Homo sapiens: one gene and its partners. The protein of the gene in region 1 interacts with the protein of each later gene in a pairwise test. Each region holds a gene or a part of one and is shown on either strand. Other genes may lie near its edges.

Region 1 (3,764 bases):
GGAGTCTTGTTGGTGATCTCACCCTTTAACTTTTAGGTCTGATGCTAACTCCAGGCAGTTAGTGTCAGAATTGAAGGATCTGCCCTTGACCTGTGGGGTCTGTGCTGTCTCTGAGTAGTTAGTGTCAGAACGGAATTGAATTGACTGGCAGGACCCCCAGTGGGCATCAGAATGCAAAAGGCTACAGGAGAGCCTTAAAGAAAGCCACAGCTGTGGAAGTGAAAGGAAGAGGTGGACTTAAGAGGCATCATGGGAGCAGACGGTACAGAACCCCACTTCAAACCTAGAGGTGACAGAAGGGAGAAGTGTTGAAGATGACACTGAGGATTTGCCCTATAAAACCAAGACACTGTGGTTCTGTTACTGGAAACAGAGAAGCTCATAGGAGGTGCTGATTCTCAGGGACAGAACAGAGAGGGAGAGGAGTGAGGAAGCAAAGAGCTCATTTCTAGAAAACTGGACTTCAAAGTGCTGACTGGGTGTTCAGATAGAACCATCTCACAACCAGCTGGAAATTCAGGTTGGAAGTGAAGCAAGATGTCAGGGGGAAAGGATGGAAGCTTCAGAGTTATCTGCAGAGGGTGGAATTTGCATTTGGCAGAGTAGATAAGATACTGAGAGAGGAAGAAGACCAAGGATAAAAAGTACTTTCAGAAGTACACAGGCAAAGGGGAGAAGTGAGGCGACCGAGAGAGGAGTTCCACAGCAAAGTGTGGGGAGAAGGGTGCAGAACAACAGCCAGACCACTGTTTTCTTGCCATGGCCTGAGACGTGCTCACATGCCTAGATGCCATCACCACGCAAACGACGGGCTCAACCAGGGCCTCTCCTGTAGAGCTTCATAAAGCCTTTCCTATATTAACAGGCACAGAGCTTCAGGGCAGCCTTTGCTGAGGCTCTTCAAAGATTAGTCAAAAGCTTGGTAAGTTTGAGAAATATTGGTTTAAAAATAACAGTTCTGCTGAGCAAACCAGGAGAAGCAGAAGAAAAAGTGGTGATCAGTCAAGAGACTTGCAGTTGAGAGCGGTAGCAACTAATATCACCAACACACAAATACAAGCAACAGATACAGATACCACTTCTTTCAATAGCCTTAAATTCTCTTCCTCCAGATACACATTATCTGTATATCAATGGTATAAATTTACGCTCCTCCCTCTATAAACTAGCCTTTGTATAAAATGCTGAAGACAATTACAAAAAACCATTTATATCAAATACATATTAAGTCAATCAAGTGTCTGGAGAGCTACTCGATGGCCACAATATTCAAATCTCCCCTACTTAACTTTGTTAAGTTCTTCAAAAAGGTAAAAGAAATGAAATCAACATTTGTATTATACATATTTGTATTATACGTGAACCTATATTTACATAAGCCAACAAAAATTTGTGTCTGCCTGGAGGAACGGAGAGGCCTCTGGGCAACCGTCAGGATTATGAAAGGAAAAGCTACAGCCTACCCCAAATACGCTTGTTTCCTTTGCCTCCGGAAGGCTGAAAGAGAAGGCTGGCTGAGAGGCAACTCTGGAAGCCAGAGTTGGAGTTTTATCTCAAAAGACAAGTTTTAGGCCGGGCGCGGTGGCTCATGCCTGTAATCCCAGCACTTTGGGAGGCCAAGACAGGCGGATCACCTGAGGTCAGGAGTTCGAGACCAGCCTGACCAACATGGAGAAACCCCGTCTCTACTAAAAATACAAAATTAGCTCGGCATGGTGGTGCATGCCTGTAATCCCAGCTACTCGGGAGGCTGAGGCAGGAGAATTGCTTGAACCCAGGAGGTGGAGGTTGTGGTGAGCCGAGATCGCACCATTGCACTCCAGCCTGGGCAACAAAAGCAAAATTCCATCTCCAAAAAAAAAAAAAAAAACCCAACAAGTTTTAGTGCATCATTTAAAAAAGCCAACCTTAGATATTATTGCTTTGGCTTCTTCTATAGTCTTCTTTAACACTTGCTTCATCTTCTCATTTGGAGCTATAAAAATAAAAAGGAGAGAGGGAGAAAGAGCTGTCAAATACAAAGCCTCTTCTGAAATACCTCAATCCCCTCTGTCTGAGTCAGGGGGTAAATGAACTGAGAGAGAGTGCGAGTGTGGAATTTAGGGAAGAGAAGCAAGAAACCTGGCTGCCGGAAGTTAGGTGAAGACCTCTTCCCAACAGCAGAGACCTGGAGTGTGCTTTACGCAAAGTGGCAAAGGCTACAAAAAACAGAAATGCATGTCGTTGGGTAAACAGGGCCGGTGAACTTTTTCTGGAAAGGGCCAGAGAGTAAAATTTGAGGCTTTGCAGGCCACACAGTCTTGTTGGGTGGGATAACTCAGCTCTGCCACGTAGCACAAGAGCAGACAATACTTAAATAACTGGGGTAGCTGCGTCTCCTTACAATTTTATTTACAATAGGCAGCTGGCTAAATTTGACCTGTAGCCCATAATTTGGTGACCCCTAGATCAGGAAAAAATAATAACTTGAAAGCTTAGAAGCCAAAAAAAAAAAAAAAAAAAAGAAGAAGATGGAATGCCCAAACCTAGGGAAAATGGGGCAAGTTGAAACCATACATTCCTAGTAAATAACAGTATTAATTAGACATTGAAAATATTAGAAACACAAGATTGTATTATAATAGAAGTGGTTAGGCTGGGCGTAGTGGCTCACGCCTGTAATCCCAGCACTTCGGAAGGCCAAGATGGGTGGATCACCTGAGGTCAGGAGTTCGAGACCAGCCTGGGCAACATGCTGAAACCCTGTCTCTATGAAAAATACAAAAATTAGCCGGGCATGGTAGCAGGCATGTGTAATCCCAGCTACTCTGGAGGCTGAGGCAGGAGAATCACTGGAATCCGGGAGGCAGAGGTTGCAGTGAGCCGAGATTGTGCCACTGCACTCCAACCTGGGTGACAGAGTAAGACTCTGTCTCAAAAAAAAAAAAAAAAAAAAAAAAGGTGGTTAATTTAAGAACATATTACATATTGGTTTAATGATGAATAATGAACTGTTAACTGGTTCTCATATTTTTTTTCCTCATCTTACCACATCTTCTTACGTAAGAAAGCTGTGGAAGACAACCATTTTTCAGGTTAACATTGAAAGGAAAAAATACTAGGAATTCTTACTATCCCTGATATTTAAAAAAATGTATTTTTGAGCTGCTAAAGGCCTTGCAGGAATACTGTTCTTTTACTCCTAACAGTGTTTTAGGGCTGTTCAATTACAGTGTTTTAAATGGCGCTTTTAATGCAGGTTAAAAAGAATAAGCTATCAAAAAGGATTATCATCAATTCCACATGATCAGCCAAACACTGAAAGGAGAGGAATTTCCTCAGTGTTTTGCCGTGTACTGAAGTGCTCTGCCCCAGAGAGAAGCATGTCCTTGATCAGGGAAGTCCATGTGCTGACATGCTTTCCCTTTCCTCTTTCACACAGTCCATCTCGAAAGATCCCCCAACATTTGCGAACAGTAACAAAACACAACTCTGAATACATTGCGGTGAGGACCTGCCAACAATTATTAGGTGGAAACACATGAAATTGCCAATACTCAACCATTTTTGAGCTACAGAAGGGAAAGGGTCATTTCATCTGGTTCGTCGAATACATATAAAAGCAAGCTGCAACTTATTAAAGAGCAAGACAAAAGCTTCCTTTATCTACCTAATTCATCCTAGATTAGAGTTTTACCAAAGGAGCTACAGAGTACAGTATTTTGTAAGTCTGTAGAGAAATGACGAGGTCAATTTTTAAACGTAAAGAACTGCTTTCTCACACC
Region 2 (3,764 bases), on another chromosome or scaffold:
ACACTCTGGCCTGGATGACAGAGCAATACCCTGTCTCAAAAAACAAACAAACTGGTTTTCCTAGGGTATTTAGTGGGGAGCGAGCAGGAAGAATCAAGATGTGTACAAACAGAAAAAACTTGGTGGGAGGGAGACATGCAGTATTAAAGCCCTTTTTAAAAATCTGAAACTTTTTTACCAATACAAAAATTATTTTTATTTTTTATTTATTCATTTTTTTTGAGACGGAATCTTGCTCTTTTGCCCAGGCTGGAGTGCAGTGGCGTGATCTCACCTCACTGCAACCTCCACCTCCCAGGTCCAAGCGATTCTCTTGCCTCAGCCTCCCGAGTAGCTGGGATTACAGGCACCTATCACCACGCTGGGCTGATTTTTGTATTTTTAGTAGAGACGGGGTTTCTCCATGTTGGTAGGCTGATCTCGAACTCACGACCTGAGGAGATCCACCTGCCTTGGCCTCCCAAAGTGCTGGGATTACAGGCGTGAGCCACCGCGCCTGGCCACAAAAATTTATTTTTATTACTTATTTCCACTATCACATGAGCTAGATCATATAACAACATTGAAAATCCACTGGCTAAAGACCAAAGACAGACTAATGGCTCAGCTAGATAATAGCAAATGATATGTTGGACTTAAGTTGTTTGATTTTTTTTTTTTTTTTTTTTTTTTTTTTTTTTTTGAGGCAGAGTCTCGCTGTGTCCCCCAGGCTGGAGTGCAATGGCAGGATCTCGGCTCACTGCAACCTCTACCTCCCTGCAACCTCTACCTACCTGGTTCAAGCGATTATCCAGCCTTACCCTCCTGAGTAGCTGGGACTACAGGCATGCGCCACCACGCCTGGCTACTTTTTGTATTTTTAGTAGAGACGGGGTTTCACCATATTGGCCAGGCTGGTCTTGAACTCCTGACTTCGTGATCTGCCTGCCTCGGCTTCCCAAAGTGTTGGGATTACAGGCGTGAGCCACCGTGTCCGGCCTTGAGATATTTTTTTAATTCAAAAGTTTATTCACAAACTTCAACTTTTAAGTGTTTTATTACAGATAGACTGGTAAGCTACAGAATTTTTAGGACTTTTTTTTTGGGGGGGCGGGCTAGGAGGGCTGATTTCTGAGAAGCAGAGAAAAACTTGTAGACAGGAGAAGCCGTTTCTGTTACAGTAAAATAAAGCTATTATACTATTAGTATCCTTCATGATATTAAGCAGATACAAGACCCGTTCTTATTTATTAAAAGAACTGAGGGATATAGTAAGTATCAGTTTTTATTAAAGCTGTCTTTCTCCTATTGGACAATGAGTTGCGTTTACTGAGGGCCAGAATCCTTTTGCTCATATCAGGTTTGCTCCTGCCTAGCATATAGTAGTTGCTCAATATATGTTTATATATTAAACGAATAAATTGGTGGCTTTATTCTTTCTGCCTAAAATATTGTCTGGTCTTATTTGTTAGGAATTCTGACCACCTGATTTTCCATAATGCCTCATATCTGGTATTCTGGGTACTCTGCAATTAGGCCATTAAGAAACTGAAAGAACCAAGTTGCATTTTTTTTTTTCCAGGCTGGCTAGGGAACCATCTACTGGAGTTGAGGCTATTTTTTCCTGCCCTTTTATAGGATATTTTTTAAAGTATGAAATATTTTAAGTGTACAGAGATCAATATAATGAACCTTCATATACATACCACCCAGCTCTATAAGATTCTAGTAATCTGCCATGTTTGTTATTTTAAAATAAATAACACATTAAAACGCAGATAAATGATTCTGGTCTCTTTCCTTAATCTCCGGGTAATCATTATGAATTTGGTATTTGTCTCATTTTTTTTTCCTTTTTTTTTTTTTTTTAGTTTTGCAATATACATATGTACTTACCAAAAAAAACTATTTTGCATGCATATAACTACTTATCTGTTCTCCTATTTTATGAAGTTGAGGTTGTTTCTAATTTTCTTTACCAAAAAAAAATGAGCATTTCTCTAGGGAGTTTACTGTGAAGAAAAATGGCCGGGTCATAGAGTACGCTATTTATTTATTCATTTATATGTTTATGCCAAATTGCTCTGAAGTTTTTACTAATTTAAACTCCAACCACTATTGTGTGAAAGTTTGTTTTTCTACACTCCTCAGACTTGACATTAACAGAGATGCATGTTTTTTCAATCTGAAATGTTCTCTTAAGGTAATCTTTTCCTATCAGTCACATTAAATACCTTTTCATAGGTATTATTCATTGTTCAAGTTTACTCTTATAAGTTGAAGAACATTATTTGCATATTTGTGCTGTTAGATTTTTGTTCATTGGATATTGATAGGCATAGTTAATAAGTAAACATGCTTTTTAACAAACTAACACATTGCAGGCTTCTTCTATATTCTTTTAGATATTTAGATAGATGTTACTAACGTTTTACCCCTCACAAAACTCAAGTTCTATAAAAATATTATGAACCTTCCCATACTTGTTGGCATTTCAGAAATGGTACAACCTAATGAGCCTGTTACCAAGAATCTAGTGTAGTGAAATCTGGAGCCCGGGCCAACGTGTGTGAATTGCTGATAACATTTTTGTAAGCTATTTTTGATTAAGGGTAATTTGTCACTTAATGACCATAATTAAGTTTAATGTACCAGTAGTAGTTTATTGCTAAATGCCTACTTTGTGTCATACTACAAATTTGAAGAAAAGAGTATTTCCTGCAATGGTGACTCTCTTCTTTTTCTCATCCCCCCAGGTTGTATCAGAGTAAGATGGACGGTAGCTTTGATTGTGATTGTGGTGAGCTGGAGCCACCTGATCACTAACAAAAGACATCTTCTGTTAACCAACAGCCGCCAGGGCTTCCTGTTGAAATAAATATATAGCAACAAAGGAAAAAAAGAAGCAAAACGGAAATAGTGCTTACCAGCACCTTAGAATGATGCTGCTCAGGACCAGTCCAACACTGAATGTATCTGCACTGTGAGGAGAATGTTCATAGAAGCCTGTTGTGTGCATATTTATTCACATTTTTGTTAAATGTTAAATCGTTTAGCACGGTAATCTGAGTGCACAGTATGTCATTTCATTCCGTTTGAGTTTCTTGTTTTCGTTAAATGTCTGCAGAGTTGCTGCCCCTTTCTTGAACTATGAGTACTGCAATCTTTTTAATTCTCAATATGAATAGAGCTTTTTGAGCTTTAAATCTAAGGGGAACTCGACAGGCCTGTTTGGCATATGCAATGAACATCAAGAAACCATCTTGCTGTGGAAGCATAATTATTTTTCTTCTCCCTTTTTGAAAGATCTTTCCTTTTGATGCCAGTTTTCTTCCTTGTTTACACAAGTTCAATTTGAAAGGAAAAGGCAATAGTAAGGGTTTCAAAATGGCAGAGAAATTTGAAAGTCTCATGAACATTCATGGTTTTGATCTGGGTTCTAGGTATATGGACTTAAAACCATTGGGTTGTGGAGGCAATGGCTTGGTTTTTTCTGCTGTAGACAATGACTGTGACAAAAGAGTAGCCATCAAGAAAATTGTCCTTACTGATCCCCAGAGTGTCAAACATGCTCTACGTGAAATCAAAATTATTAGAAGACTTGACCATGATAACATTGTGAAAGTGTTTGAGATTCTTGGTCCCAGTGGAAGCCAATTAACAGACGATGTGGGCTCTCTTACGGAACTGAACAGTGTTTACATTGTTCAGGAGTACATGGAGACAGACTTGGCTAATGTGCTGGAGCAGGGCCCTTTACTGGAAGAGCATGCCAGGCTTTTCAT
Region 3 (3,764 bases), on another chromosome or scaffold:
GCCTGCCTCGGCTTCCCAAAGTGCTGGGATTACAGGCGTGAGCCACCACGCCCGGCCACATCTGGCCAATTTTTTTGTATTTTTAGTAGAGAAGGGGTTTCACCATGTTGGCCAGATTGGTTTCGAACTCCTTACCTCAAGTGACCCTGCTCCCCTCGGTCTCCATAAGTGTTAGGATTACAGGTGTGAGCCACCGCACCCTGCCTAAAACAATGAACTTGATACCTGCTTGCAAATATGTTTTTTTCCTCTCTGGTATAGGGTGCTACATTGTAGAATCAAAACATCAGACTTAGAAGGTAGAGTCAGTGAGTGGAAGGAGTCTTAGGAATTATTTATTCGTAATCTCTAGTAGAAAAGGAAAACTTGAACTTTAGAGAACTTTATAATAAAATGTGGGATTTTATCAAAAGTAATACAATTAGCTAGTAGTAGACTGACTAATTTAGCTCAGTTCGTTAGACATTGTTTGAGCACTTGTTATGTACTCTAAACTGATAGGCAGTGTGTTTCTTTTTTTTTTTTTTTTTTGAGACGGAGTCTCGCTCTATTGCCCAGGCTGGAGTGCAGTGGTGCAATCTTGGCTCACTGCAAGCTCTGCCTCCCAGGTTCATGCCATTCTCTTGCCTCAGCCTCCCGAGTAGCTGGGACTACAGGCGCCCACCACCACGCCTGGCTAATTTTTTTTTTTTTTGTATTTTTAGTAGAGATGGGGTTTCACTGTGTTAGCCAGGATGGTCTCGATATCCTGACCTCGTGATCCACCCGCCTCGGCCTCCCAAAGTGCTGGGATTACAGGCATGAGCCACCGTGCCTGGCCTAGGCAGTGTGTTTCAAAGATAATGAAGTCCGCTGGGTGTGGTGGCTCAGGCCTGTAAACCCAGCACTTTGGGGGGCCCAGGTGGGCAGATCACGTGAGGCCAGGAGTTCGAGACCAGCCTAGGCAACATGGAGAAACCCCGTCTCTACTAAAAATAAAAAAATTAGCTGGACATGATGTCGTGTGCCTGTAGTCGCAGCTACTCAGGAGGCTGAGGCGTGAGAATGGCTGGAACCCAGGAGGGGCAGGTTGCAGTGAGCCGAAATGATGCTGCTGCATTCCAGCCTGGGCGGCAAGAGCTAAATGCTGTCTCAAAAGATAATGAAGTCCATTTTCTGATCTTGAGAAGTTCAATTTAGTGGTCTGGAATCTAGAGGTATTGGTCCATAGTTCATTTTTGGCACTGCCCTGTTCTACCTCTCACTGCTTGAGACTCCCCCACCCCACCCCACCTGACAGAGTCTCTCTCTGTCACCAGGGCTGGAGTGCAGTGGTGTGATCTCAGCTCACTGCAACTTCCACCTACCGGGTTCAAGTGATTCTTCCACCTCAGCCTCCCCAGTAGCTGGGACTACAGGCATGTGCCACCACTCCCGGCTAATTTTTTTTGTATTTTTAGTAGAGATGAGGTTTCGCCATCTTGGCCAGGCTGGTCTCGAACTCCTGACCTCAGGTAATCCGCCCACCTTTGCCTCCCAAAGTGTTGGGATTACAGGTGTGAGCCACCCCGCCTGGCCTGCTTGAAACTTTTATGTGAAGTTGCTCGTTATTTATTCATCGTCCACCTCTTCGAACTAGATTTCAGGCTTCTGATAAATGTAGATAAAACCTTGGTAAATACTTGAACTTAGTTTTTTCGGGACAGCTTATGGATTTGAGTGCTACTTATATGAAAAGAATTAACTGTGTTGCATATACAAAAAGTAACCCACGAAAAATAGAAGATATAAGCCCTGCCTTTAAGGATATTGTTATCTTTTGGGGAAGATGATGTGAACAAATGCAGAACAATTATTCATAGTAAGACAAACCACCTATGAGATCATGTTTCTGTATATAGAGTGTTACATTTAGTTTTGATGGGCTGCAAGAATAGGTAAGTCAATAGCTGTCATTTTTGGGCACCCTGACTGGGGGGACATGGTGGCAGTTATTTTCAGTAGAAGTTATAATTTCCAGGTTTGTGTTTGTTGTCTTGACTAGGGATGGTAAGGAAAAGGCTGGGAGTTTCCCTAGGTGAGTTTTATGAGCTAACTTCCTATAAAAGGAGGATGCTACATTTGACAGAATCTCAGTACTCTGGGATGCTCATTTCTAAGTTCTCTTGTCCTCTAGGGGTGCCTTCACCTATACCCTTAGTTTTTTCCTTCCTTGGCATTGGCTCCTTTGCATGGCTTGGTTTACAAGGGTGCTTCTTTGGAATAATTGGAAGTGGGTGTAGATTGCTAATAAAGCTTTCATGGAGGTGAATTTTGAGTAAAATTTTGAAAGTGAGGCAAGGTTTGGTGGAGAAGGAGCAGCAGGGGATTTTGGTTTGGAAACACGGCTTGTCTAAAGGTTTGGAGATATTTAGAAATAAGCAAGTAGTGTGTGTGGAGGGGGAATTAGCCAGTAGGTTTTCTTGAAAGGAGTAGAAAACATGCTGCCAAATAGCAAGAACCAAGGATAGAGCAATTTCACAGTACCTTTATGTATGCATTACTTGGGATTTGATGACATAAGGAATTGCAAACCAACATAGACTGTTGAGTGAGAGGCAGGATGGTATAATGAAAAGAAAAGGATTTTGGAGTCAGTGTCCTAGGCTTAGAGTGTCATAGATTCAAATTCCAACTCCATATTTAGTGTGACCCTGAGCAGGTTGCTGAATCTCTGAGGCTTGGATTTCTCATTTGTAATAATCCCCCAGTTTTCTTGTCTGTAGTAAAGGTGATAATATTCACACTTTTGTGAGAATTGAAGTTCATTATCACATGATGTAAAAGCACATAGTATAATATTATGGTAAATGCTCTGTAAATATTAGTTGGCTTTCCTTTTTTTCTGCTTTGCTAGTTTACAGTCTTAGAGGCTTCCCTTTCTGAGGCTTTAGAAGAGTGATACTTGTCGCTCTGGGGTTTTGATTAGTAAAAGAGTGAATGTCACACCAACTTGCAGGCTGTTCTTGCAGGCTAGAGATGTAAAGTTATTAAGGTCCGAAGTAGGGTGACAGTTGTAGAAAATGATACCTAGGGTCAGGCTGGGCGTGGTGGCTCACGCCTGTAATCCCAGCACTTTGGGAGGCTGAGGTGGACGGATAACTTGAGGTCAGGAGTTCGAGTCCAGCCTGACCAACATGGTGAAATGCTGTCTGTACTAAAAATGCAGAAATTAGCTGGGTGTGTTGGCACACATCTGTAGTCCCAGCTACTCGGGAAGCTGAGGCAGGAGAATCGCTTGAACCCGGGAGGCAGAGGTTGCAGTGAGCTGAGATCATGCCACGGCACTCCAGCCTGGGTGACAAGAGTGAAACTCTGCCTCAAAAAAAAAAAAAAAAAAAAAAAAAAGATAGCTAGGGTCAAACTTAGAAGATACTGATAAAGTATCGTAGGACTTGGTTGCCTATAGTCCCAGCTACTCAGGAGGCTGTGGCGGGAAGATAACTTGAGCCCAGGAGTTGGAGGTTGCAGTGAGCTATGATTGAGCTTCTGTGCTCTAGCCTGGGCAACAGAGCAAGACCCCTGTCTCAAAAAAAAAAAAATACAGGGCTTGGTGAGTGAGGAATTGTGTTGGAAAGAGTGTAGGCTTTGTTGTTAAACCAGGCTTGCATTCTGATTTTGTCACTTAAAATTCAGTCTCTTCCGTATCTCAGGATAATTCCTGTTTTGAAGTGTTATTGGGAGGATTATACATAAAACAGCTAGAAATGCCTGGCACATAATGGAAGTTTAGTAGTAGGAAGTTG
Region 4 (3,764 bases), on another chromosome or scaffold:
ATGATCCAGCAGTTTCTCTTCTATAGACCAGAAGAATTGAAAATAGGGACTTAAACAGATATTTTTGTATACTTATGTTCATAACAGCATTATTCACAATAGCCAAAAGGTGGAAGCAACCCACATGTTCACTGACAGATGCTAGAGAAACAAAATGTGGTATATACATAAAATAGAACATTATTTAGCCTTGAAAAGGAAGCAAATTCTCATACATGCTAAACATGGATGAACCTGGAAGACATGCCAAGTGAAATAAGCCACTCACAAAGCACAAATATTGTAAGATTCCACTCATACGAAGTACCTAGAGTAGACAAATTCATAGGTACAGAGGATACACTGGTGGTTGCCAGGGCCTGAGGGAAGGGAAAGTGGGGAGTTAGTGTTTAATGGGTAAGGAGCTTCAGCGAGGGAAAATTAAAATGTTCTAGAGATGGGTGCAGAACAATGTGGAAATATATTTAATGCCACAGAACTATATACTTTAAAATGGTTAAAATGATAAATGTTACGTATATTTTACCACAATAAAAACATTTATAAATGATTTCTCTTGGCCAGATATGTATAATAGCACAGGCTTGTCACTGAATGCAGTCAGATTACAGTTTGAAAAGACTTCCTAAAAGTCTTTTATCAAATAAAAAACAGAGGAAAAAGTAAATATGAAAGTAAGGAAGAGCTTGTTTAATCTGTGGTTTAAAAATCTTGTGTTTATTTTTTATTTTTTTTTTAATCCTAGATTACGTTTGGCTTCTTTTGATAGTAGTGGAAAACTAATATGTAGTAGAACAACTGGCTATCAAATACTTACACTTGAAAAGGATCAGGTATGTTCGATTATCTTCTGGTATGTCATCATAATATTTGTCTTTTGAATCCTCTTTTGAAAATTCTTAAGTAGAATTAACATTAAAGTGATGGCATTTTGACCTAAAAGTTGGTTTAAAAGTCTTTTGAAGGTAAAGATGAAAGTACCACATTCACTTATGCATAATTGACCCCATCCCAATGGAAGCATAATTAGGAGAAAAAAAGAAAACACTGTTTGAGGGGCAGGGAAACACTGATTATAAGGAAATAATTGTTTATCCTGAATATCAGCAGCACTAAAATTCATTCCTAAAATTTTAGGAATCTTAAGTGCTTTATCCATTGTGTACATAGTGCATTTATTTATACATTCACAGCAGGCATCTTAAAGACAATCCTGTATGTCTCCATAGCTCCGAATATCATAAGAGCATTATTCTCTAGCCCATTAGGTTCGTAAGATGGCAAACTCTGCAATGTTCCCCAGATTATCTCCAAAGCCATTTATTTATTCATACATCACACACATGGAGAAGTTTCAAAGTGTCATGATGAGAAAGTAGACCATTTTTAAAAGTAAAACTGAAAGCTGTTAAAATATTGAGGAACTTTATTTCTATTAAAAGTAATCATCATTCCAAAGGGCATAATGTTTTATTAAAGGATTCAAAGCCTGTTATAGTTTACATAAATTATGAGAAGTTAGTAGTTTTCCTCAGACTGAAGAGACTATCATAGAACATCCTTAGCATTGCAAGTAACCCCGGAAGTGATCATTGTAACCTCACATGCCCTATATGAGAACTTCTTTTAACAGCATTCTTACAGAGGGGGTCATCCACCCATTGTTGAAACTCTAACTGACCCCCATCTTACATGAAAGGTAATATGTAGGAATGTCCATTTCAAGGCAGGTATATAATGAGAAAGTCCAAATCTGCCTCCATCAGAACTCTCTGTTGGTCCTTCTTGTAACCTCTGCAGCTGAACAGACAATGACTATCTTTATCTTCTACCTGAAACTTCATGAAAAATACTGTCATGGCTCAAACCCAGCCAGAGACCTAAAAAAGCACCAGGCCAAGATAATAGTTGTATTCCCATGTTCCTTCAGCAAACATTTGTGTCCCCACCATGTGCTTGGTTCTCAGCTAGAAGTAGAAGAAATAAAGACAGGCTTGTGTTAATATAGCCTAGTGTAAGTAGCATGATAGAATTAGCTCAGAGTGTGCAACCTTGAGGGAGAAGACTCTGACCTGTAACTGAGCAGCTGCCGTGGTTGGGGGTGGTTATTGGAGGAGGAGGAGAAAGAAAGACAGCTCAGGGAAAACATCCTCTCCTGGAAAAGTGTTAAAGTGAATGCATACCTGAACCAAGCCTCAAATGGTGAGTAAGATTTCCGGAAGCAAGGGAATACATGGGTCATATTCAAGGAACTGAAAGATGGTTGGAAGAGTTCAGTATAACTAGAGCCAGGGCATGAGGGCTGTGGATGGAGTTTGGGAGATTTACTTTGGGAGTTGTCTCCGTGTTTTATATAGGTTATAGATGTTGTCGAAAAAATAGAAAATATGAGTCAGCTGAAACAACAATCATACATGTACCACTCAGATACATTGCTGAGTTTTTCCTTCACCTGTATCATTTTTGCAAAATTGGATCACAGTAGGTTAGCTATTTTGTAACCTGCTTTTTTTTTTAATGGTGAAAAACATATATATTTAGAATTTGCCAGCTGGATTCAACTTAGATGATCCCAATTTTTTGGCAGCCTCTAAAAGCAGCATGCTCAGGAGCCAGCTGAACATGGGCTTTCTTCTCTCCATCAGCCCTGATCACGGTGTTGATCTTGGCCACATTGGTGTCATAGAGCTCCTCCACAGCCTGTTTGATCTTATGCTTTTTGACCTCGACATCCACAATGAACACAAGTGCATTGTTGTCCTCTGTCTTCTTCATGGCCAAGTCAGTGGCCTGGGAGAACTTGTTGGTCGCATAGTGGTCAGGCCTGGGGGAGAGGCAAAATGGGGTCACCTGGCCTGGGCCCAGTAGAAGAAAGGCTTGGTCCTCTTTCAGAGCCCAAGGCCAGGTGAGCCTAGGTGCATCAGACAGTGAGGTAGTAATTGTAACCTTTTTTTTTTTTTTTCACTTTGTTGTACATAGCTTTTTTTGGTCAATAAATATATATTCACAGCATCATTTTTATGAACGGCATAATATTAGTTGTTTTGGCTATACCGTAACTTAGATAATTCCTCTTTATTGGATAAAGTTGTTTCTCATTTTTTTTCATTACTATAGGAAATATACATATATCTTTGTCCATTTTTATGATATTTTTAAAGCATAAATTCCAAGAAGTAGAATTCTTGTTGCATGGTGCATACAATTTTCTAATGGCCAAATTGCCCTCCAAAGCTACTGTCCAATTTATACTTCCCCCTGGCAGCAGTACAGGAGAGTATACCCAATATTGTATCTTATTCTTTTTCATCTCTATCCCAGCGTAGTAAATGTGAAAACAAATATTTGTTTTAATTTTCATTTCTTTTTGTTTGTTTGTTTTGAGACAGAGTCTTGCTCTGTCGCCCAGGCTGGAGTGCACTAATTTTTAGTAGAGACAGGATTTCACCATGTTAGCCAGGCTGGTCTTGAACTTCTGGCCTCAAGTAATCCACCTGCCTTGGCCTCCCAAAGTGCTGGGATTACAGGTGTGAGCCACCGCGCCTGGCCCTTAATTTTCAATTTTCATTTCTTTGGTTACTGTATTGTTGGGTTTTTTTATGCTTATTGAACGTATCATCTCATGTAAACTGACAGCTTATATTGTTCCTGTTTAATTTTTTATTAAAATTTCATTTTTTTCTTGCTAATTTTTAACAGCTTTTATATATTAAAAATACATTTGTGATACTCTATAGTTTTTACTTTTTTTTTTTTTTCCGAGA

Evidence for each region.
Region 2: the proteins of CFAP298 (region 1) and MAPK6 interact in a two-hybrid assay, tested with the Homo sapiens proteins (one large-scale study listed by BioGRID and IntAct).
Region 3: the proteins of CFAP298 (region 1) and TAF1 interact in a two-hybrid assay, tested with the Homo sapiens proteins (one large-scale study listed by BioGRID and IntAct).
Region 4: the proteins of CFAP298 (region 1) and GMCL1 interact in a two-hybrid assay, tested with the Homo sapiens proteins (one large-scale study listed by BioGRID and IntAct).

What each region holds. Positions count from the first base shown.
Region 1 is NC_000021.9:32,605,742-32,609,505, forward strand, and holds part of CFAP298 (cilia- and flagella-associated protein 298), read right to left. Parts: intron 1,976-3,764; coding exon 1,908-1,975; intron 1-1,907. Other genes in the region: CFAP298-TCP10L (uncharacterized protein LOC110091775), read right to left, coding at 1,908-1,975. UniProt on the Homo sapiens protein: Plays a role in motile cilium function, possibly by acting on outer dynein arm assembly. Seems to be important for initiation rather than maintenance of cilium motility.
Region 2 is NC_000015.10:52,043,095-52,046,858, forward strand, and holds part of MAPK6 (mitogen-activated protein kinase 6), read left to right. Parts: intron 1-683; exon of another isoform or gene 684-2,570; intron 2,571-2,735; 5' UTR 2,736-3,366; coding exon 3,367-3,764. UniProt on the Homo sapiens protein: Atypical MAPK protein. Phosphorylates microtubule-associated protein 2 (MAP2) and MAPKAPK5.
Region 3 is NC_000023.11:71,369,093-71,372,856, forward strand, and holds part of TAF1 (transcription initiation factor TFIID subunit 1), read left to right. Parts: intron 1-3,764. UniProt on the Homo sapiens protein: The TFIID basal transcription factor complex plays a major role in the initiation of RNA polymerase II (Pol II)-dependent transcription.
Region 4 is NC_000002.12:69,871,000-69,874,763, forward strand, and holds part of GMCL1 (germ cell-less protein-like 1), read left to right. Parts: intron 1-745; coding exon 746-833; intron 834-3,764. UniProt on the Homo sapiens protein: Possible function in spermatogenesis. Enhances the degradation of MDM2 and increases the amount of p53 probably by modulating the nucleocytoplasmic transport.